Regions from separate parts of the Homo sapiens genome. Here region 2 is linked to region 1. The links come from fine-mapping of genetic effects on gene expression. Tissue or cell type: T cells. Region 1 holds a variant in brackets; the other region holds the start of a gene. All regions are shown on one strand. Distances are from middle to middle.

Region 1 (5,147 bases):
AGCCAGGCCTCGGGGAGGGCACCCCCTAAGACCACAGTGGCCAAGATCACAGTGGCCACGGCCACGGCCACAGTCATGGTGGCCACGGCCACAGCCACTAATCAGGAGGCCAGGCCACCCTGCCTCTACCCAACCAGGGCCCCGGGGCCTGTTATGTCAAACTGTCTTGGCTGTGGGGCTAGGGGCTGGGGCCAAATAAAGTCTCTTCCTCCAAGTCAGTGCTCTGTGTGCTTCTTCCACCTCTTCTCCAACCCTGCCTTCCCAGGGCTCTGGGCATTAGACAGCCCTGTCCTTATCTGTGACTCAGCCCCCTCATTCAGTATTAACAAAATGAGAAGCAGCAAAACATGGGTCTGTGCTGGGCCCCTTGGGCTCACCTCCCTGACCATGTCCTCACCTCTGACTTCAGGCCCCACTGTTCAGATCCCAGGCTCCCTGCCCCATCTCAGACACCCTGTCCAGCCTGTCCAGCCTGACAAATGGCCCTTGTCACTGTACACTGTAGAAAGCAAAAAGGCATATCTCTACCCCTTGATATGCCTGCTACCTCACCAACCAGCCCCAAGCCTGTCTTCACCCATCACTGTCTACACAGCCCTCTCTCTCTCCTAACAGAATTCTATTCCTCTGAAAGTCTTCCAGAAATGGACCTAGATAGTGCCATGTCTGGGGAGGAATACTGGCACCCAGGCAGTGGAAACAAGGACAGATCCGGTGTGTTTACTCTCACACTTTTTCTGGATCCAAGAGAGCAATTGGATCTCTCTTAACAGACCTGCCACCCTAATCAACGGGAGTGCTCACACAAGTGGGAGTCTGAGAGCTTAGCCCTATGCCCACCCTGGTCTCAACAGAATGGCAGAGTGAAGAAATGAGCTCCAGTCCGGGCTCTGCAGCTAAAAGACTCCGTGACTACCAGGAGGAGTCTGTGCTCTGGGTCCAGAGAGCCTGGGGGTCTGAAGATTCTGATTTTAAGCTTTGAGGGCCAGCTGTCCTTTCTGGTGGGTAGCTGAGAGCTGGGCCCAGCACAAGTATCTGCTTCTCTCTGCAAAGCCTACTACCAGGCCTGGCCCTAGCTGCCTCAGGGCTACTGCTGCAGCTCCCCCTTCAAGCTGCCCCAGATCCAAGTGCTCAGTTCAGGGACTCCTCTGCCATCTTCCTGCCCTTTGGCTATAAAGTCCCTTTCCTAGGTTATAACCAGTGGGGTTTGGCCTTCCAAAAACCAGAGTCCAGATCAAGGTCCTCTGACCCCTGTCCTTTCAGCAGAAAGAAGACTCACAGAATTAGGATCTGGGGAAGCTGGGAAGACTAGCAGTCACCTACTCTCCCTTTTCATAAGTGAAGAAACCGAGGTGTAATATGGAGAAGAGACTAGTCCAAAGTCACACAAATGACAGAGTTGCTCAAAATAATGCAGTACGAAAAGTAGCTTGAATCATATCTGCCCCACTGGCTGCACCTCCCCAGCCCCTTCCCCAGTGCAGAGCAGGAAGATATAGAGCTGCCAGTGTTGGATTTCAGCCCTCCCCTCACAGCCTGGCTATGGTTGTGCCCCCAACCTGCCTGTTGCAGACTCCTGCTTTAAGGGCCTGGGGGCTCCGCTCTGGGTGCAGGGTTTTAAGGGCTCCCACTCGAGGGTATGAGGATGTTTCCAGGAACTGTCTCAGGCTGAGAGCTTAGGCAGCAGAGTCTAGAAGCCCTCCTCAGTCCCTTCTGTGCCTGACTTGGAGACCTGACAGCTGGGGACACTCATTTTCTGACAGCCCTTCTGCTCCCATGCTCACATCCAGGGAGGAGTCACTGTCTTCACTCCCTTCTGAACACAGCTTGGTAATGAGGAGAGAGAAGCATCCTGGGGATTGGAGGGCCTTAGACCAGATGCTTCCAGTAGGGTGGTAAGTGCTCCCCCTAGGCCCTCTGCCCACCACTACTTATCACAATGTGCCTAAATATGTTTATGACTCTGCCTACCCCTCCAGACTGATAACTCCAAGAGAGCAAAGTCCATCTGTTTTTTTTTTCTGATTTATTCTCAGCACCTAGAGTAGTGGCTGCTACATAGAAGGTTCTCAGCAAATATTGCCTGTATAATGGCCTAGGTTTCTCACGTGTTCTATGCTCTCTTCTCAAGGGATGATGTGGAGAAAAAAAAGCAAGAGGAGATCAAAACCTGCAAATGGAAGGCTTCTGCATTAGCATTACAGAATCTCAAACCTGAAGGTAAGGAGCAGCAAGTTGATGGAATCGGAGGGCCCCTCCACCCCCTGTTCAATCAGACCAATTTGATTTGAAGGAAGAGATTTGTCTTGAAAAAAGTGTGAAAACTATGGACTTAATCCAATCTGCCCCACCCACACTCTAGAGTGATTCTTGCCAACATCCCTGCCAAGTGACTGAACCAACCCTGCCTGAATTCCTCCAGGAAAGGAGAGTTTCCCCCTTTGGGAGTGACACTTGGAATGTCCCTCATTATACTGAGCTGAAATCCATCTCCTCATGCCCACCCAGCATTAGTCCTACTTTTCCTCCCCTTTGAGGACACAGAACAAATCTAACCCCTTATCATCCATCCTCCCATCCACATGTTTATTCCTCCACTTCTTCAAAACGCCTTCCCTAAATTACATCCAGGCTTTCTCCAGCCTCTTCACCTTTGCACCAAAAATGCTGTGCTCCATCCTGGTGTCTCTTGTAAGTCCCTTAGGATCCATCAAGCCTTGGAACAAGTGTTA[C/G]TGCTTCCTCACCATCCACCCTTCTCAAGAAGATAGGGACTTCCTCCTCCAGGCCCACAGAACTCTGACAATTCCACCATTGCACTTCAAATACTGAATGGCAAATACTCATTTGCCAAGACTATGAACCCCTGAAAGCAGGGACTATAGCTGATTTTCCCCCACATTCAAGATCCCAGCATGGACCATCCACTTGTTCATCCACAAAGTGAAGATAGGATGGTTCTAGAGCAGAAATGGGTGCTTTGCTCGAATGTGGGTGTGAGGTAGGAGTGGCTCTCAGGAACTGGGGTTGGGGGTGCCAGCTGTCTGGAGACCTGGGGCTGGCAGAGAGCAGAGCAGCTGAGTGGCAGGATGACCCAGAGACCTCCTCAGGTAACAAGGATTCTTCCATTTACCTTGTCTCTAGTAACTCAGTCTGCATGTAGGCAATTGTTTCAGACCCTGGGGGAAGGTCTGACAACAAGCCACTTGCACCCTGCGGAATTTTCTTTAAACGTAGTTGAACAGAACTCATCAAGGTGACTTAACCTCTTCATTCCCATTAGCCTCTTTCATTTCAAAAAAAAAAAAAAAAAAAAAAACCTCATTCTGCTGAGTAGAGCAGAGTGGGCTTCTTTTCTCAGATAGAGAGAGCAAGCATGTCCATGTCCATGTCAAGGTTAAGATTCCCACTCCAAGTGGAAATCAGTAGCTATCTCTGTGATTAATGAGTCCTTTGGGGAAACATGACCTTTGGGGACTTTCCCAGCACCATGGTGACTAAAGAATCAGAGACAACCTGTCTTCAGATGACTATCCAACAATTCCTGCAACAATGAGTTGCCCTCCAGGCTGGTGTTAGCAGTGGAACCTGAACTGCTAGATGCCTTCCTGGGAGGAATGAGGAAGGATCAGAAGTAGTCTAAGCTGCTAAACTCTTCCCAGACACTTCACAGTGCTCTGAATGTGGTCTGGGGCCTGGGTGGTGGTGGGATGGCTCCAGAACTTGGGGGAGAAATGAATTCACTTGTCCACTCACTTGTATGTCCCTTCATTCACTCAACAGACATTAACTGCAGACTTACTATGTGTCAGGCACAGTATAATGCTGAGGGGCCTTCATGATAAATAAAGCTTGTCCATGTTGTCAAAGAGTTCTCGGGCCTGCAGGGAGACAAGACAGCTCCTCAAATTAATCTGATGTGGAAAATGAGAGGCCAGGGAGGTCCAGCTAAAAGATTTCGGTGGGATGTAGCTCGGTGGGACTTTGAGGTGGGAATGATGCCCTTCACTGGGGCCATCTCCATGGAGGGGTAAGTATCAGTGTGACATCAAGGCTGGTACCTGGAGACATCCCGGGATAAACATGAAGGTGCTTCAGGAGACCATGTATGCAAAGGCCTGGAAATGGGCAGGCGTGGGGTTTGAGGGCGAATGAGGAGCACTGGGGGCGTGGCAGGGAGAGGTAAGAGAGACAGATGAGAACAGGATAGGTACCAGGCCAAGGAACTCACACTCCATTCAGCAGAACAGGGGCAGAGCCCCGAAGGCTTCAGGGAGGGCAATGATATAATCACATTTGCATTTCATAGAAGTTTCTCTATCTGTGTTTTATGGGATGGGTTTGGGGTGGGAATGAGACCCCAGGCACATGGCCTGTGGGGAGTCTGTTGCAAGAGCCCAGGTGAGCACTTAAGAGTCCAAGCGGTGCTTCTCAGAAAAAGTAAAGCTAGAGCCTCAAACTACCCCAAGCTTCACCTCAATTAGGAGAGGTGTGACTGCAACATGATAAATAAGATCATTTCATGCTGTTTGCCAAGACCTTTCCAGGAAGGAAGATCTCAGCTTTCACCAGCCCGGTGAGCCAACCTTACACAACCCTGATGCAGCCCTGCCCTGAAGTAAGCTCCATAATCCAACCCCAATGCACTGCCCCCTCTTCCGGCAGTTGCTTAAAACATATATTTTAGAAAGCCCCGTGTCATGGATTTTGACACTCCAATTACCAAAGTGACAGCAGGACTGAAACAACTGGTTTCTCAAGTCCTATTGCCCCTTGGGGCTCTGACCTGAAACAGTTTCTCTATCCTAAGACGACAATCAGTCCCTGGATGATTAGATCACCCCTGTCTTCAGAGATCCACTCCCAGACACAGGAGACAGGGAAAGGGAGCCCCTGAGCGACAGCCAGCTGGCCTCCATCCTGAGTGTCCCACGGAATGCAGAGTCCCAACTAAACACAGAGCACCGCTATTGGTGCTGGCTCAAAACAACTACATCTAGGCTTTCCTTTTCTGCATGAGTTCTCCCACTCTTGCCCACGTACCCAAAATTGCTGCATGCAGACTGTACAGTGAGGAAGGGGTTTGTTGCCAAGACCCGAGGTGAAGAGGAAGAGGAGGGTGGCCACCAGCAGGGGCGGCAGGGGCAGCA
Region 2 (5,147 bases), 28 kb after region 1:
GTATAGACAGACAAGTTAAGAACCCTGGTTTAGTGATTCTGGTGACAGCTTCCTACCTTTTTACCCATCACTAACACCACTGCCCCAGCACCTAAGTGAGGACAACAGAAAATTCCCCACACCACAGCATGAAAATCCAGTTTGGGGTGACATTCTTGTCAAAAGGTTCCCCTTCATTTTCTTCTTTTTTTAATGTCCACCTCAGAGAAGAACCACTCGTCTTCTGGCCTTCCCCTTGTACCAGCCCTTGGGAAGTATTTTTTAGATAATTTTCTGATCACCAAAGCATAGAATCCCATAGGGCAGCGTATGAATAACCTATTCTTTGACTTAAGTTTTACTAATTTATTTTCCTATTTGCCTATTCCTTTATCATTTAATTGAGTTGGGAGTTTGGGAGTGGAGAGGGAGGAAAAATTTTCAAAATCCCCAAGGACAAACTACAGGTATGTGGACAGGTGTGAGGATTATCCTGTTAATGGAGGACTCTGAACATTGTCCACCTACATCACACCACACACACAATCAGCCTCTCCCCCCTTCCCTCTCTTGCTCTCTTTCTGTCTGTCTCTCTCTCACACACACACACACAGACACACACACACACACCCACACACTTCTATGTAGCTATCACTCTAATTTCCCAAGAGCCACATCTAAGACATTTAGCTGGAAGCTAAAATTTAGCTTAGAGAACAGTATCAGTTGTTCTTATACTACCACCCTGTTCCCAAATCCCCGACCCATTTCAGAACCACTAGTAAAATCATCAGCTATAGTGTCATGGACTTTTTGGAATCCTTAAGCCTCAAATCCAATGGCTCAAGATGGAGGGGCTGGAAGGGAATGTGGGGCAGAGGCCAGGTGAGGGGTAAAGCAGGAAAGGCTTGTGAGAGGTAGGGTGGGATAACATAGATTTCTTTTTCTTCCTTTGGGTTTTCCAACCCTCCCTCCACACCGAGGAACCTCATTCCACAAAAGCATAAGAGAGAGGCATGAGGTATTGATGACTTTATTATTCTGCAGGTACATGTCCAGGGGCCCAGCCTCTGGGCCCAGTAACTCAGCTACTCTTTGTGGCTTTCTTCATGGCTTTTTTTGTGGGCTGCCACGCCCATCTTTATCACCAGAATGAGGAACTCCTGGAAGTTAACTGCACCATCAGTGTTGATATCCAACTCTTTGAACCAGACGTCTGCACCCTTTTTCTGTCAAGATTGAGGAGGAAGAAGCCAGAGTTTAAAGATCTCAGAGAGAGCCGAGGCATAGCCATCTATGAAGGGTGGCAGGGAGGACCGCTGGCCCAGGGCAGCCCCAGGACCAGGCAGAGAGCCCCCGCCACACCCAGCCCCTCCTCACCCTGATATACTGAGGACACTCGGTCTCTAGCAATTTCTTCAGGTCATCCCTGTAGACGGCATGGAAATTCCCCTTTATCAGGGAGTACTTGTGGTAGACGTCGATGATAGAGTTCAAGGCTTTCTCCAGCTCGGTCAACATGATGCCCACGGACTTGCCCCACCTGAAAAACAGAACCTTCTGGGGAATCCCATGGCAGGGAATTTGCATCTGGCCAGGGCAGTACGCAGAGGATTCATGCCCCAAGCGATGGCCTTGTCCTGGCCTGCACTCTCCAAATAACCAAACCAGCAGATGGCTATGGCTCTGGTGGGAAGGGTGGGATGATAGGGATACACGTGTGGGAAGGGGAAGGGTCCATTCACACAGAGACATGTGCACACACACGGGGCCCGTAGACTTTCCTTACCACCCCACCCTCTGCTCAAGAAAAGTCCAGCCTAGGAGACAATGTGCCCTTACCCACTGGAAGGTGCTGGAGGATACTCTCCTTCCTTATCCCTGCCTCACTCCCCACCTCCAGGAGTATCTTTGCTCCAGACCTCCCTGAGCTTTCTCTCTCCTCTCTCAGGAAGGCTGCTCCACTTCCCTGACCCTCCCCAAGAGAAGCCCAAAGTGCGGGGCCAACCCAGACAGTCCCACTTACCAGGTCTTCTGAAAGACAGCTGACAAGAGACATGCAGGGCTGAGAGGCAGCTCCTTTTTATAGCGGTTAGGCTTGGCCAGCTGCCCACAGCTTCAGGCCATCAGAGACAGCTTCTCCCTGCCAGAGTTGCTACAGTCTCTGGTTTCTCAACCAGGTGAATGTGGCAATCACTGTGCAGAATGAAAATTTTGGGTGGGGAGGTAGGAGAAGCGGAAAGAGGAAGGCATTTGCTGGGCAATAGTGCCCAGAAGGAAAAAGCAGGTAGGGGGGCTCTTTTTCTGGGCTGCTGGCATCCACTTGCTTGATCCAGCCAGATTCCCACTCCCATGCCCTCTCCACTATTGCGATTGCTAATCCCCTGCATTGGTGGTCAGGCCATACATCCCTGAAACTGAATTGAAGTTGAATGCATCATTTTGAGTGCATGCACTCAGTGAGAACATTCCTCCATGGCTTCTGTCAGAGTTTCAAAGGGTCCAAAGACCGCAAAAGGGTTGAGAACACGTGTCCTGGCTGATGGCTTTTAGTCATGAGAACTATTGTTCTCATTACTAAAAACTAAAACTATCGTTGTTGTTCTTTTGGGTGGGTGCTTTGTGGGGAAATGTGTTGTTGCCAAGGGCTATATCCATTCCTACCCTGCTGCCCACACTCCTCCACAGCTTTCCTGTTCTGTGAAGCTGGGGATGGACCATGCCCTGGGAGATGGAGGCTGCTTGGGGTCCCTCGGCACTTCACAAGGGCCTGAGCCATTGCATAAACACAGCAGGGAGCCTTTCACCCTCTCTTGGTTAATTATTGTGTCTGGGACCCCAGGATCACTGGCTGAAGAGAGGAAGCTAACTCTGAGGTAGTGGAGGGGAAGAGTTCTTTGGAGAAGCCAGACGCGCTTCATGCCTAAGAGGAGAAGAGGAGGTGGCCAATTCCCCAGGATTTCAGGAGGAACAAATCCTCTCCCCACCACTAACAAAATGCTACTCAGATTAACTGGCTTCCAACCTTGAAGACTGTGGTGTGTTTCTGTTGTTACAAAGAAAATATTTGTAAAACAAATATCTGATAAGGGATTAATATCCAGAATATAAAAGAATCCCTACAACTCAACAACAAAAAACAAACAAACCAATCAAAAATTGGGGAAAAGACTCAAATAGACACTTCTCCGAAGAAGATATACAAATGGTCAATAAGCATATGAAAATTACTAATCTTTAGGAAAACATGAAGCAAAACGACAATGAGATACCACCTGACACCTACAAGGATGACTACTACTTCTTTTAAAACCCAGAAAACAAGTGTTGGTGAGGGCATAGAGAATTGGAAGCCTAATGCACTGTTAGTGGGAATGTAAAATAGTGCAGCTGTTATGGAAAACGGCAAGTTTGTTCCTCAAATAAATAAACACAGAATTACCATATGATCCATCATTCTGCTCCTGGGTATATATGCAAAAGAATTGAATGCAGGGATTCAAACAGATGTTTGTACATTCATGTTCATAGCAGCATTATTTACAAGAGCCAAAAGGTGGAAGCAACCCAAGTGTCCCTCAACACATGAATGGATGAAGAAAATGTTTTGTGGGGACATGTGTTGTTGCCGAGGGCTAAATCCATTCCTACCCTGCTGCCCACACTCCTCCACAGCTCTCCTGTTCTGTGAAGCTGGGGATCCACCGTGCCCTGGGAGATGGAGGCTGCTTGGGGTCCCTCTGCATTGCACAAGGGCATGAGCCATTGCATAAACATAGCAGGGAGTCTTTCACCCTCCAAAATAAATCCAGCTCTCTCTGGATGTGAGCCATTGGGGACCCAGCACAGTGCCCAGCACACACAATAACAGCAGCCACAATCACTGATCAGAGCAAATCATGACAAAATACTAGTTCACACTCACTGAGCTTTTCCCATGTCCGGGAACTATTCTAAGTGCTGCTTTATTTGCATTGATCATTTAATTCTCACACTAATCCAATGACGTATGTACTATTATAATGCCCATTGTACAGATGAGGAAACTAAGCCCCACAGAGAGACATAGTAATTCAGCGTATCAAATGATTGAGTGACTCATGATGTGATGTGACAGCATCCACTTCCTATTCCTGCCTGTAATGCCTTTTGTCCCTGTAATGTCCTCCTCACCATTCCTGATCCAGCTCAGGCATCATCTGCTCCAAGTCCATCCCTGATCCACCTGCCCTCACCCCATCAAGGCAGAATTAGTTCTTCTCTCCTCCATGCTACCCAAATCCTTACCCATCACAGCATTTGCCCTGCTATGTTATGATTCACTTGTTTATTGTCTGTCTTTTCTTTGGGACCAGGAGACCATTTAGAAAAGAAATCACATTTCTTTTCACAACCCTAGGGCCTGGCAGCTACTACATGTTCAATTAATACTTATTGAGGGATAAATGAATACAAAATTAAGTTTGACCCTTCCCTTATCCAAGGCAGAAATTCTCTTTATCACAATCAGCCATCTTAAATCATTTCTGGAAGAAGGCAGGGTATAAATTCATCAAACAAATGCAGTCTGACTTCCTTGACAAAAGATGAATCAAGCTCCATCTAGGAAAACAACGCCATTTCTGACATGACAAGTTTTCAACCAAGGATCCACCCTTGGTTAATACCTATTATTCACCACGTACTATCCTATGTGACCAGCATAACAGCACCTGCCTCAAAGCACCATATCATATTTTCAAAGTATTTTGCATCCACTGACTCATTTGATATTCCCAGCAACCTAGTGATGTGGACATTACAAGTATAATTATCCCTATTTGACAGATGGGGAAACTGAGGCACAGGGCATTACTTCAGGTCCTTCCCCTGGTCCAGTGAGGGAGTCCTGAGTGGTGACCTCCTTCCCACATCATGTACAGGCTGACCAGCAAGATCGTGAAATGTCGCCCCCTCCCCAGAAACTGCGCCCCTGGACAGCCTTGGGTGCTTTGGGGACAGCAGGAGCCAGGCTGAACTGACCTTGCAGCAAAAGGTATCAGGACTTGGGTAAGCACATCTGGGGAAAGGCAGAGGCTGTAAGCAGCCTAGCGGACATGGGGCAACCTAGAGGGAGCGGAACCTGGTCATGTTTACAGGAAAGGGCTCAGTCCCTGGGTGTGTCCCAA

What was found. PIP is the estimated chance that this variant, and not a neighbour inherited with it, causes the effect.
Region 2: S100A8 starts here. The variant in region 1 is the best candidate, but not a certain one, in a credible set for the expression of S100A8 in T cells (TOPMed, PIP 0.55).

The regions. Positions count from the first base shown.
Region 1 is chr1:153,360,810-153,365,956 of GRCh38, forward strand. It overlaps S100A9 (S100 calcium binding protein A9), which reads left to right. Exons shown (of 3, transcript NM_002965.4): 3 at 1-214. The coding sequence ends at 29. Among named protein-coding and RNA genes, the nearest start is that of S100A9, 5.5 kb to the left of the region's middle. The variant C/G (reference allele first, on the strand shown) is at 2,733.
Region 2 is chr1:153,389,036-153,394,182 of GRCh38, forward strand. S100A8 (S100 calcium binding protein A8) reads right to left here and starts at 2,038. Exons shown (of 3, transcript NM_002964.5): 1 at 2,006-2,038; 2 at 1,360-1,522; 3 at 997-1,208. The coding sequence starts at 1,500. The coding sequence ends at 1,068. RefSeq lists a silencer at 1,045-1,245.